2 linked regions of the Homo sapiens genome follow. The protein of the gene in region 1 purifies or fractionates together with the protein of each later gene. This does not show direct contact. Each region holds a gene or a part of one and is shown in the gene's direction. Other genes may lie near its edges.

Region 1 (7,030 bases):
AATTTACATACAGTAAAATTCATTTTGGTGTTCAGTTCTGTGGTTTCATAAAGGCATGGAGTCACAGATCCACCGTCACAGTCATACAGGTCTATCGTCCCCCAAATTCCCTCTCTGCCCCAACCTCCAACCCTTTAATTTTGCCTTTTCCAGAATGTCATGTAAGTGAAATTATACTGTAGGCAGGCTTCTTCCATTTAGCGTAAATCATTTGAAATTCATTCACGTGTTGCATGTCAACTGTTGGATCCTTGTGTTTAATGCTGAGTAGCATCCATTATATGGATGTGCCACCGTTTGTTTATCCATTCTTTTATGTATCATAATAGCAGCCTTTTTAGATATGTCCCCGTTAGACAGTGAGGCACTAGGGATTGGAGTTGCTAAGTAGCAGAGCTGCTTTTTTGTTGTTTTTTTTTTTTGTTTTGTTTTTGGAGACAAAGTCTTGCTCTGTTTCCCAGGCTGGAGTGCAATGGCGTGATCTTGGCTCACCGCAACCTCCGCCTCCTCAGTTCAAGTGATGCTCCTACCTCAGCCTCCCGAGTAGCTGGCCTTCATGCCCAGCTAATTTTTGTATTTTTAGTAGAGACAGGATTTCACCATGTTGGCCAGGCTGGTCTTGAACTCTTGACCTCAAGTGATCTGCCCACCTTGGCCTCCCAAAGTGCTGGGATTACAGGTGTGAGCCACCGCACCGGGTCCAAGCTGAATTTTGATCAAACCCCAAATCCAGGGTTCTTCCCCACCACATCAAGGAACTGATTGGGTTAAACAACCCAATTAGCATTTCTTCACTGCCCATCCAAGAGGTTGTCAGGTTCCTAGAGTTGGTGGAGAATTCTCTTTTACCTGGTGCCTGCGGTTGGAAGGAGGAGCAGGTACTCCACAGTTAATGCCTCACCATATGTGCTCCTCTTTACTGGTGTGATAGCAGGCTCACCAGATTTAGCATGGTTGGGACTGCCCAAAGCATACATTATTTCAGCAAATAAATTTGTCTGAGTTACTCCCGGGGTTGACTGCACTGGGTTATCAGTCTGCTAGTGCAGTGGTGTAGCAGGGGCAGGACCAGCCTGTTTCATGCCCTGGAACAACCAGCCAGGAAAGATCTAACCCTTGGGCCTTCCTCCTCAGTGATGTCCGAGCTCAGCGATGAAGCCAGCGAGCCGGAACTCCTGAACCGCAGCTTGTCCATGTGGCACGGGCTCGGGACACAGGTCAGCGGGGAGGAGCTGGATGTCCCCCTGGATCTTCACACAGCTGCTTCCATTGGCCAGTATGAAGTGGTGAAGGAGTGTGTGCAGCGGTAAGAGATCTCGGGGAACTTCCTCTCACATTTTGAGCAGCGCAGTGATGGCTTCGATCCCACGTGATGGGGCTTTGCACACAGTTGTGGATGTTTAATGCGTGTAGAATAGGTTAACCTGCTTATCTCAGGCAGCTGTCAGTAAGTATTGATGCTGAGCCCTGACAAAGAGGCCGTTTTTATTCCTAGGAAGAAAAAGAGGGAGTAAACTTTGATCAGAAGCTTATAAACAGTCATTCTTTAACCAGACTAATTTTATTCACTAATTGCAGAAATGCCCAAACAAACAAGCAAAATAAAAATAAAGACAGAAAGTGATGGCCTGGTGCGGTGGCTCACACTTGTAATTCCAGCACTTTGGGAGGCTGAGATGGGCGGGTCACTTGAGGTCAGGAGTTTGAGACCATTCTGGATAACATGATGAAACCCCATCTCTACTAAAAATATAAAAGTTAGCTGGGTGTGGTGGCATGTACCTGTAATCCCAGCTACTCAGGAGGCTGAGGCAGGAGAATCGCTTGAACCCGGGAGGTGGAGGTTACAGTGAGCTGAGATTGCGCCACTGCACTCTAGCCTGGGCAACAGAGTGAGACTCTGTCTCAAAAACAAAAAAAAGAAAAAAGAAAGTGATCCCTGGCCTTCTTTTCCCGGAGGGTTCATTCGATCCCTGTGATCCCTGTTCCCCTCTAGCTTCTGCCATGGAGGAGGAGAGAGGCTGGGCTTTCAGTGCCTCTGGGGAATGACCTCCCGACGTCACTGCCCACCTGCCCTTTGCTAATCTGTGTACAATAGTTAGAGACAATATAAAGCCCCTGGCAGGGTCCATGGCTGCGTCTTGCCCATAGTAGGATGTGATCATCTTGTTTTTGGAAAAGGGTCGTCTCCTCACTTCCACCCCCTTATGTTCCACACACAGCCTAACTCTGTCTCCTGGTTCTCATTTGATATTGTGGTGCAGCGACCTCTCTTCCTCTCTCTGCGTGCCTCTTCCAGTTCCCAGTGAGCCAAAGCAAAGCATTGCTGAAGCCCCAGGTCTCCGGTTCCCAAGTTGTGGCCCTCACTTAGACATACCCAGCCCATGGAGTGCTGGTGCACCTTGGTACAGGGTGGTCTGTTGCGCTCCCTCCACAGGAGGCTCTAGGCATAGGCAGCTGGGTATGCAGTCAGTACGGCCCCTCAAAGGGTCACGTTTGGAATTCTCAGGCTCTTAAGTCTTTGGGTGTCCTGTTAAGATGCAGAGTCCATAACCGCTCCATAGAGGAGCAGGGGGAGGCGTTTGTGTTGTGATGGGATTTTGACACTAGCTGAGGTGGAGGCTTGCTGATAGTAAGCACAGGATGGGGCCTGAGGGGAGCTGGGGGCATCAGAAGGAAGGGGTGGGGCTGAACGAGGAGTGGTAAGAGAGCCCCAGGGAGATGCTCTGCTGTTGTGTAAAGGAAGATAGTGTTAGGACGAGCTGGGTGCATTCGAGCCCTGCTGCAGAGGCATCTCCATGCAGCCCCCCTGGCCAGGGGCTGCCACTGAACCCTGGTATCAGGACCTTCTGGAATGGCTGCCCAGGTGTGCATCCCAGAGTCACTGAGGGCTGCCAGGCAATGGAAGGTAGTTGCCTGCTGTGGTCTAATATGTGAATCCCGGCTGGGCGCGGTGGCTCACGCCTGTAATCCAGCACTTTGGGAGGCTAAGGCGGGTGGATCACGAGGTCAGGAGATCGAGACCATCCTGGCTAACACGGTGAAACCCCATCTCTACTAAAAATACAAAAAACTAGCTGGGCGTAGTGGCGGGCGCCTGTAGTCCCAGCTACTTGGGAGGCTGAGGCAGGAGAATGGCGTGAACTTGGGAGGCGGAGCTTGCAGTGAGCCGAGATCGCGCCACTGCACTCCAGCCTGGGCGACAGAGCGAGACTCTGTCTCAAAAAAACAACAAAAAAGTGAATCCCGTAAAAGGGACAGATCCTGGGGTTCAGTCACCAGTTGTTATCCCCTCTGCAGGCAAGAACTGGGGAAGGGAAAGAAGGCCTGTGGGCGTTAACCATGTAGGATCCCAGGTAACCATGCAAGTGGGTATTATTTTAAATGTGACTCCCTTGTCCCAACCCCAGAGTCGCAGCTAGGAAGCCCACAGTTTTTTCCCATGGGAAAATGCATTGCCAGAATTTTAACAGCAATCAGTGAGAAAGATGGGATTCTTTGGTCACAGATTTTTCAAGAATGTTTCTTTAAGGTGAGGTGACAAAGGATGAATCAGTGGCGGTGGGACTTGTCCACGGTGGAGTCCCTTCTTTCCTCACTGCTCCTCTCCACCCAGCAGTGGGCTAGTAGATGCCAGGCCTGTGGTGGTCAGGGTTTTTCAACTGTGGCTGTGTTGACAATCCAGGCTGGATCATTCTTTGCTGTGGGGGCTGTCCTGGACACTGTGGGATGTTTAGCGGCAGCCTTGGCCTCCAGCAGCCCTTCCCTGCCCAGTTGTGAGAACCAAAAATGCCTTCACACATTGCCACATATTCCCTGGTTGAGTGCCATCTGCCTATCTGGTGGTGTGAAAGAGCATAGCTGGCCTTGGGCTAGGAGGATGCGAAATCAGAGCAAGGAGACGAAGGCTCAGGGCCTCACAAGGCAGTGTACGAGCAACTGTCAGCATTTTTCTGCCTGCCTGCCTCCAATCCCCACAACGTCCAGGGTGGCAGATAACTTCTGCTTCCTGTCAACTCATCCCGCCTGGCCTAGCCTCGCCACCAGCTTTGGTGAACCCCACATGCGAGGCGGCTGGCCATGTCTAGCATATCTTGCGTTTGTTTAGGAGAGAGTTAGATTTGAATAAGAAGAATGGTGGTGGCTGGACCCCGCTGATGTATGCCTCCTACATTGGCCACGACACAATCGTGCACCTGCTGCTTGAGGCGGGGGTGAGTGTGAATGTGCCGACCCCAGAAGGGCAGACTCCACTGATGCTGGCCTCCAGCTGTGGCAACGAGAGCATCGCCTACTTTCTTCTCCAGGTGAGCTACGAGGGAACTCAGGCCCAGAAACCTGAGGGGCTCCGTGGCCACCCTGACAGAGATGCGAACCACTGCAGGCCACGGTGTTCGTGTGTGCTCGTGTAATCACTTCTGATTCTTGCAGCATGGCCGCCTGGAGGGCGCCCGCCCCACGCAGAGGAGATGAGGCCGTAACGCACGTTCTGTGTTCTCTTGAAGCAAGGTGCAGAGCTAGAAATGAAAGACATCCAGGGCTGGACAGCCCTCTTCCACTGTACCAGCGCCGGGCACCAGCACATGGTCAGGTTCCTCTTGGACAGTGGAGCCAATGCCAACGTGAGGTGATTGCCACATCTTTAGTGGCCACAGGAGTGGCCTAGGTGTCATCTGACTCTAAGGAGGGTGGCTCTGGAGGCAGCTAACCAGAGTTTAGGGCCACCCTGCTTCGGCACGAGAGGCTCAAGATGAGGGGTAGGACCAGAGTCCTTCCAGGCACAGGCCTTTTCGTACATCTGTGAGATGCATCTCTTCAAGCCCTCTCAGCTTCCTTTTCTTTATCTGAAACCCACCTGGGTCATACAGTTGTAAGAATTACATGTTTTATTGTATGCCAGGGGCCTAACATACTGAATGGCATTTAAATGTCATACATTACATGCAAATTCCTTCCATTTTCTTGCTTTTTGTATGGATGAGGTGAGGTGATGCTTTGAAACAGTCATGAGGCCGGGCGTGGTGGCTCACGCCTGTGATCCCAGCTCTTTGGGAGGCCGAGGTAGGCAGATCACGAGGTCAGGAGATCGAGACCATCCTGGCTAACATGGTGAAACCCCATCTCTACTAAAAATACGAAAAAATTAGCTGGGCATGGTGACGGGCGCCTGTAGTCCCAGCTACTCGGGAGGCTGAGGCAAGAGAATGGTGTGAACCCGGGAGGTGGAGCTTGCAGTGAGCCGAGATTGCACCACTGCACTCCAGCCTGGGTGACAGAGCAAGACTCCATCTCAAAAAAAAAAAAACAAAAACAACAGTCATGAGTTTTGGCCGGGCTCAGTGGCTCACACCTGTAATCCTAGCACTCTGGGAGGCCAAGGCGGGCAGATCATGAGGTCAGGAGTTCGAGACCAGTCTGGCCAACATGGTGAAACCCCGTCTCTACTAAAAATACAAAAATTAGCTGGGCGTGGTGGCAGGTGCCTGTAATCCCAGCTACTCGGGAGTCTGAGGCGGGAGAATCACTTGAAACCAGAAGGCAGAGGTTGCAGTGAACTGAGAGATCGTGCCACTGCACTCCAGCCTGAGCAACAAGAGCAAAACTCTGTCTCAAAAACAAACAAAAAACCAGTCATGAGTTTTATAAGTTGGAAGTGGGATTGTTGTCTAAAGCTTGTCATGATAATAATCACCTTTGAACAAACGCAGCGGGTACCAATGCAGCACCCACCCTGGCTGTCATTCATTCTAAGACACCTGATAATTTTGTATGCCACTAAGAAAGAAAAAATATGCTACTAATTAACATTCAACTCGCCTGTTGATTTAAAGATGTTTTCTGACTTGAGAGATGTTAAAATATGAACACTGTGTGTCTTAAGATGGATGAAAACCAGCATTTCCCATGCATGGTTCCTGACTTCCAAACCAGCATGAGACAAGGAGGGATTTGGAAGCCCTCTGAAGACAGTGCCGAGTTAGCATAACCAAGCATGAAAAGCAAGCTTCAGGAGCTAAGCGTGGCAAAGATAGCTTAGATCATTAGTACTTGAACTTTTCAGAGTGGGTTCATGGAGGACGTTGAACTTGAAGCCAGGATTTGGATGAATGGATGGGAGATGCTGGCTTTCTGTGAGGAATTAGAACAGCTTTTTGAATATGATTGAGGTGGAGATTTCAGAGGTAGCCAGTGGGAATAGCCAACAGGTGGGACGACAGGCAGACATCTGTCTTTAGGACAAAGACCAGCCCTGGGGACAGACACCAGAAGAGTAAATGGAGCTGATGTGTTATATTCACTGTTCTCATGTCACCTGTTAATTCTGGAAAGGGACAGTGTTCTACGCTTAGGGATCGGTGACTCGTGCACTGCTCAGGGTTTATCTTCAGCAGGGAGTTTTTGCCTGGCGGAACTTGTCTCTTCCAATCATCTGACTGTGGCCCACATCTTGCAGGGAGCCGATATGTGGATTTACTCCCTTGATGGAAGCAGCTGCTGCTGGCCATGAGATAATCGTGCAGTATTTTCTGAATCACGTAAGTGACCCTGATTATTAGCATGTAATGTAGTCACGGCAAATGAGGAATCATATTACTGAAGTATAAGCTATTACAGAATTTTCCTTTGCACAGAAATAACTTTCATTCATTTATTCAACACATTTTCATTATCTATTGACGCCCGGTGTTGAGTGGTGCTTAGGCATTAAGGATACAGTGGTGAGTAGAAATAGACACCTATTCCTGTAATAATTTTGAAAATACTATCTGAAAATTATGGAAAAATATTTTAAAAGTAAATAGCACTCATAATCCTGTCACTTAGAAAAATTATATAGAATAAGAAGGCAGAGATCCTCCTCTCTTTTTCAACCTCCCTGATGCCCACTTGGTTTGAGAAAGAGCTGCCCTAGGACTTTTCCTCTGCTGTGGAAAGATGTGTCTGTAGGCAAGTGTGTGCACATTGCTTTGTGTTTTGAACAAAGTGGGATTCTACGTATAGTCTGTAACTTAGAGACATCTTATAGACA
Region 2 (5,198 bases), on another chromosome or scaffold:
CATATACCTTGGGAAGGGGAAGTCGGGGGATGGCGGGGAGCCCACATCTGTGAGTTGACACCAGATTGGGGGCAGGGGAGTTCCCAGCAACCACAGGTTCCTCTAGCTTCCCAGCTGCACCTGCTCTGGGCCACCTACATCGGGGAAAGTACAGAAAAACCAGGCTTCCCCAATGGTTGCCCACCTGGCAGTGTGTATGGCTGGATTTAAAGACACAGCCACCTCCTGAGAATGTGTAGCCTCCAGCTTTGTCCCTACAGGGGGTGTTGAAGCCAGATGGCTCCAGACCCTTTGCCCAGTTTCTCCTTGCTTCCTCTCCTCTCTAGCCCACCATTGTGGAGGCTTTGCTGGGCTATGAAATGGTGCAGGTGGCCTGTGGGGCCTCTCACGTGCTGGCCCTGTCCACTGAGCGAGAACTATTTGCCTGGGGCCGTGGAGACAGCGGTAAGCTCCAGCCTTTAGGCCCCATCTCACAGCATCCTCAGCCATGACTTGCTCCCCTTCATACCCACCTTCCACCTCACAGCACATTCTCTCTTCCCTCTTTTCTCTCAAATTCTCTTCATTCATTCAACAAACCTTTATTTTACACCGACTATGTGCACACCCTGTGCTGGGTGCTGAGATGAGATGGAGATGTGGCTTCCTTCAGGTGTTTATGAGGTAATGAAGGAAATTTCATTCATCCACCTAGTTTTTTATTTTATTTTGAGATGGAGTCTCGCTCTGTTACCCAGGCTAGAGTGCAGTGGCGTGATCTCAGCTCACTGCAACCTCCACCACCGGGTTCAAGCGAATCTCCTGCCTCAGCCTCCCAAGTAGCTGGCATTACAGGCACCCGCCACCGCGCCCAGCAAATTTTTGTATTTTTAGTAGAGACAGGGTTTCACCATCTTGGCCAGGCTGGTCTCGAACTCCTGACCTCGTGATCCACATGCCTCAGCCTCCCAAAGTGCTGGGATTACAGGCGTGAGCCACCACGCCTGGCCCATCCACTAATTTTTTTTATTGAGGTCCTCTTTGGGTCAGGCATCAGGCTGGCCACTGAAACTAGAGATGACACTGATGGGTTCTTGTCTTCCTGGAGGACTCAGTCTAGTGGGAGAAAGATGACATTGCCAGCATGCCAGAGAACAGATAGCATCAGGGCTACACCCCAGTGCAGAGGCGTGGAATTCAGTGAACAGTAATGTCAACTGGAGGAGAGAGATGTCATTTGAACAGGGCTTTAAAGGAGGAGGATTTTGAGCCGGCGTGGTGGCTCACGCCTGTAATCCCAGCACTTTGGGAGGCCGAGGCAGGTGGATCACAAGGTCAGGAGTTCAAGACCAGCCTGGCCAACATGGTAAAACCCCGTCTCTACTAAAAATAAAAAAATTAGCTGGGCATGGTGGTGCATGCCTGTAATCCCGGCTACTCAGGAGGCTGAGGCAGGAGAATCGCTTGAACCCAGGAGGCAGAGGTTGCAGTGAGTGAAGATCATACCCTTGTACTCCAGCCTTGGCGACAGAGTGAGACTCAGTCTCGAAAAATAAAAATAAAAAATAAAGAAGGAGGATTTTAACCAGCAGAGGGGCCTAGGAAAGGCATTTGGGACTGAGAGAACAGAGAACTCATGCTGTTCCCTCCCCTCAGTGGGCCCTCCTCATTCGGGCATCACCCCCACTAAAGCTCAAATTAACTCCTTCTGGGTTTCTTCTTGTAGGCAGACTGGGGCTAGGCACCAGGGAGTCCCACAGCTGCCCCCAGCAGGTGCCCATGCCCCCAGGACAGGAAGCTCAGCGAGTTGTATGTGGTATCGATTCCTCCATGATCCTCACTGTGCCTGGCCAAGCCCTAGCCTGTGGGAGCAACAGGTGAATAGATCATCAGGATGACTAACCTGCCCCTGGCTCTCCTTGGCTGCAAGTGCTCCGTCCATCATTGCCTACCTTTCACCAAAGACCAGAATTGAGGGGGTTGAGGGTGCTATTGGTTCAACCCAGGGTGGGATCTGTCTCCTGGTGCACCAGCTCCTGCCCAAACTGTCTGTCAGTTGGATTTGGCTTCTGGCTCTGCCCTCAGGTTCAACAAGCTGGGCCTGGACCACCTCTCCCTGGGGGAGGAGCCTGTCCCCCACCAGCAAGTGGAGGAGGCCCTGAGCTTCACACTACTAGGCTCTGCACCCCTGGACCAGGAGCCTCTGCTGAGTATAGACCTGGGCACTGCTCACTCAGCTGCTGTGACTGGTGAGGAGGACTTGGGCTCTGGAGGTCAGAGGGGGACTCACGGTCTCCTTGGTACCCTGTTGAAGCACCCCTTTCCTTCCTCTCCCCCATAGCCTCGGGTGATTGCTACACTTTTGGCAGCAATCAGCACGGACAGTTGGGCACCAATACTCGCCGAGGCAGTCGGGCACCCTGTAAGGTCCAAGGCCTTGAGGGCATCAAGATGGCAATGGTAGCCTGTGGGGATGCCTTCACTGTAGCTATTGGGGCAGGTGAGGACTGAGCATGGTGGGGGCAGACAGTGCCATGAGCAGTGGGGGGTGGGGGTTGCTATTCAGGGCCACTGGACTCTGGAGCCTCCCAGGGGCCATCCTGGCAATGTGGGAGGGGAGATCCTGCTCGGGCTGTGCCCACTTCCCACTTCCCTCCTGGGGATTCTTCCTGGCAGAGAGCGAAGTGTACTCTTGGGGCAAAGGGGCGCGAGGTCGATTGGGAAGGAGGGATGAGGATGCCGGACTCCCTCGGCCAGTGCAGTTGGATGAGACACACCCTTACACGGTGACTTCCGTGTCCTGTTGCCATGGAAACACCCTCCTGGCTGTTCGATGTGAGTTGTAACTTTTCCCACTTCACCACACAGCCCAGCTGGCCCCTGTCCACACTCCCATCCCCAGTGTTCACAGATGGCCACATCACCAAAAGCATCTTTAGCCCCCAGATAAAAAAAGCAGAAGCTGCGGTTGAAAAGCTTCAAGCTTCCTGCCTGGGGTGGCCAAGGCTGGTGCTTCTTGGGCCTCATGGAAGGGCTGCCTCCACTGCTCCCCAGGGCTCACATGCATTCTTTCTCCTACTGCTGAGTCCCGTTGATGCTGAAACTCTCTTTCTGGCCTAACAGGGTCCAGAATCCAGGGCCCAGTGGGAGTGGGAGGTGGGTGATGATTTCTGGAGGCACTGCCCTCAGAAGCTGCAAGGGTTTCTCTTCGGTACCCTCCAGCGGTCACAGATGAGCCGGTCCCCCCCTGAGGCACCCGGATTCACCTCTGGACCACCCTGATATTGCTTCTCCTCTGAATGCTCTGAAAAGTGCAGGTGCCCAAGGCATGACTTGCAGCTGTCTCCTGGATTGTGTCATCATGGGGTATCAGGGCTGGCAAAACCCCTGCTCTGCTTTTGGCCTTGGATATGGAAACCTCAACCACTTTGTTCTCCTACCACCTCTTTGCCCTTCCTACCCCTTCCTCCCTTCAGTCAGTGTCCCCAGGGTCCAGCCTGGCTAGAGTTAGAAGGCAGACCTAGCCTTTGGAAGCAGGGTGGCCTCCAGAGCCTTGCCATAAAAAGGCTGAAGGCAGCCGGGCGCAGTGGCTCACGCCTGTAATCCCAGCACTTTGGGAGGCTGAGGCGGGCGGATCACGAGGTCAGGAGATCGAGACCATCCTGGCTAACGTGGTGAAACCCCATCTCTACTAAAAATACAAAAAAATTAGCTGGGCGTGGTGGCACGCGCCTGTAGTCCCAGCTGCTCAGGAGGCTGAGGCAGGAGAATGGCGTAAACCCCTCCAGCCTGGGCGACAGAACCAGACTCCGTCTCAAAAAAAAAAAAAAAACAAAAAAGGCTGAAGGCAGCTGTAGCTCCACACAGACCCTACCCTTTCCCCTAGCCCAGTTAGAAAATAAGTCTGGGCCGGCGGCGGTGGCTCACACCTGCATAGGCAGTGCTTTGGCCAGGAGGATCCCTTGATCCCTTGTGGCCAGGAGTTGGGAGACCAGCCTGGGGACCATAGCGAGACCGCTGTCTCCACCAAAAAAAAAAAAAAAGAAGAAAATAAGGCTGGGTGCGGTGGCTCACGCCTGTAATTCCAGCACTTTGGGAGGCCAAGGCGGGCGGATCACTTGAGGTCAGTAGACTGAGGCCAGCCTGGCCAACATGGTGAAACCCCGTCTCTACTAAAAATACAAAAATTAACCAGGCATGGTGACGGGCGCCTGTAATCCCAGCTACTCTGGAGGCTAAGGCAAGAGAATCCCTTGAACCCGGGAGGTGAAGTTTGCAGTGAGCCGAGATCGCACCACTGCACTCCAGCCTGGATGACAGAGCAAGTCTCCCTCTCAAAAAAAAAAAAAAAAAAAAAAAAAAAAAAGTATTTGGTGCTTACCGGGACTCTATCTCCATACTTTGGAGCAGGGCAAGCCAGGGCCTGCCTGGACTGGCCATTAGGCCTGCCTAGCTTCTGCATAGCCCGGGGCTGGGCGGTCCCCGGGAGTGCTGCCACCTCCCCTACACTTTCATCCTGAGGCAGGATTTGCTAGACGTCGGCTTGCCTCTCTTCCCCAGCAGGAGGGCAGGAGTCACTAAGTGCTGCAGAAAAGATCCGCGCTGGAGATTGCCCGTCCCCCCCATGCCTTTCCCCAGAAACAGTTGAGAGAATGGGTAGCTGGTGGGACCAGACCGGTTTCCCAGAGGACAGGAAGGCCAATAAAAATATCAGCTGCCTGCCTGGAGTGTGGTGTCTTCAAGGGTGGGGGTGGCGACCAGGCACCCCAGGACTGGGCTGGGCCCGACCTCGGTGGCAGGGCTGCGGCCAAGGGAGGAATGTGGGCGCAGCCGGAGGCTGGGGCCGAGGTTCCTCTGGCCCAGCGCCCAGTCCAGCCTCCCCGCCCCAGCTGGGCTCCCCGGAGCTGGTTGCCAGGCTTCGGCTGCCTAGCACCTGGAAGCTGGGGCCACGGTTCCTGGGCTGCTCACGGCCCCGGAGGCCGAGCTGTTGCCTCTGGAGAAGAAAACCTTTGTGGCGCGGCCCGTCCCCTTTTCCGACCCGCACTTCCCCGGGGCCCGCGGGCTCTGGGGAGAAGCGGAGCCACGATCTCTGTCCCCCAGGGGAAAGAAAAGCCCATGATCCCGTGGGTGGGCGAGACTGGCGGTCACCAGACCCAAAAACCATGCACTCGGGGGTGGGCGGGGCCGCGAGGGCGCGCATTAGGACCGCGCGGCCGCGG

What was found. Proteins that work in one complex are often made in the same cells at the same time.
Region 2: the proteins of ANKS3 (region 1) and NEK8 purify together in Homo sapiens (affinity purification with mass spectrometry; 2 studies listed by BioGRID and IntAct, with this or other methods). This does not show direct contact.

Annotation. Positions count from the first base shown.
Region 1 is NC_000016.10:4,724,256-4,731,285, reverse strand, and holds part of ANKS3 (ankyrin repeat and SAM domain-containing protein 3), read left to right. Parts: intron 1-1,134; coding exon of another isoform or gene 1,135-1,136; coding exon 1,137-1,306; intron 1,307-4,108; coding exon 4,109-4,307; intron 4,308-4,431; exon of another isoform or gene 4,432-4,505; coding exon 4,506-4,627; intron 4,628-6,454; coding exon 6,455-6,536; intron 6,537-7,030. UniProt on the Homo sapiens protein: May be involved in vasopressin signaling in the kidney.
Region 2 is NC_000017.11:28,738,758-28,743,955, forward strand, and holds the end of NEK8 (serine/threonine-protein kinase Nek8), read left to right. Parts: intron 1-326; coding exon 327-444; intron 445-1,705; coding exon 1,706-1,856; intron 1,857-2,064; coding exon 2,065-2,228; intron 2,229-2,320; coding exon 2,321-2,479; intron 2,480-2,655; coding exon 2,656-2,814; intron 2,815-3,201; coding exon 3,202-3,230; 3' UTR 3,231-4,698; downstream 4,699-5,198. UniProt on the Homo sapiens protein: Required for renal tubular integrity. May regulate local cytoskeletal structure in kidney tubule epithelial cells. May regulate ciliary biogenesis through targeting of proteins to the cilia.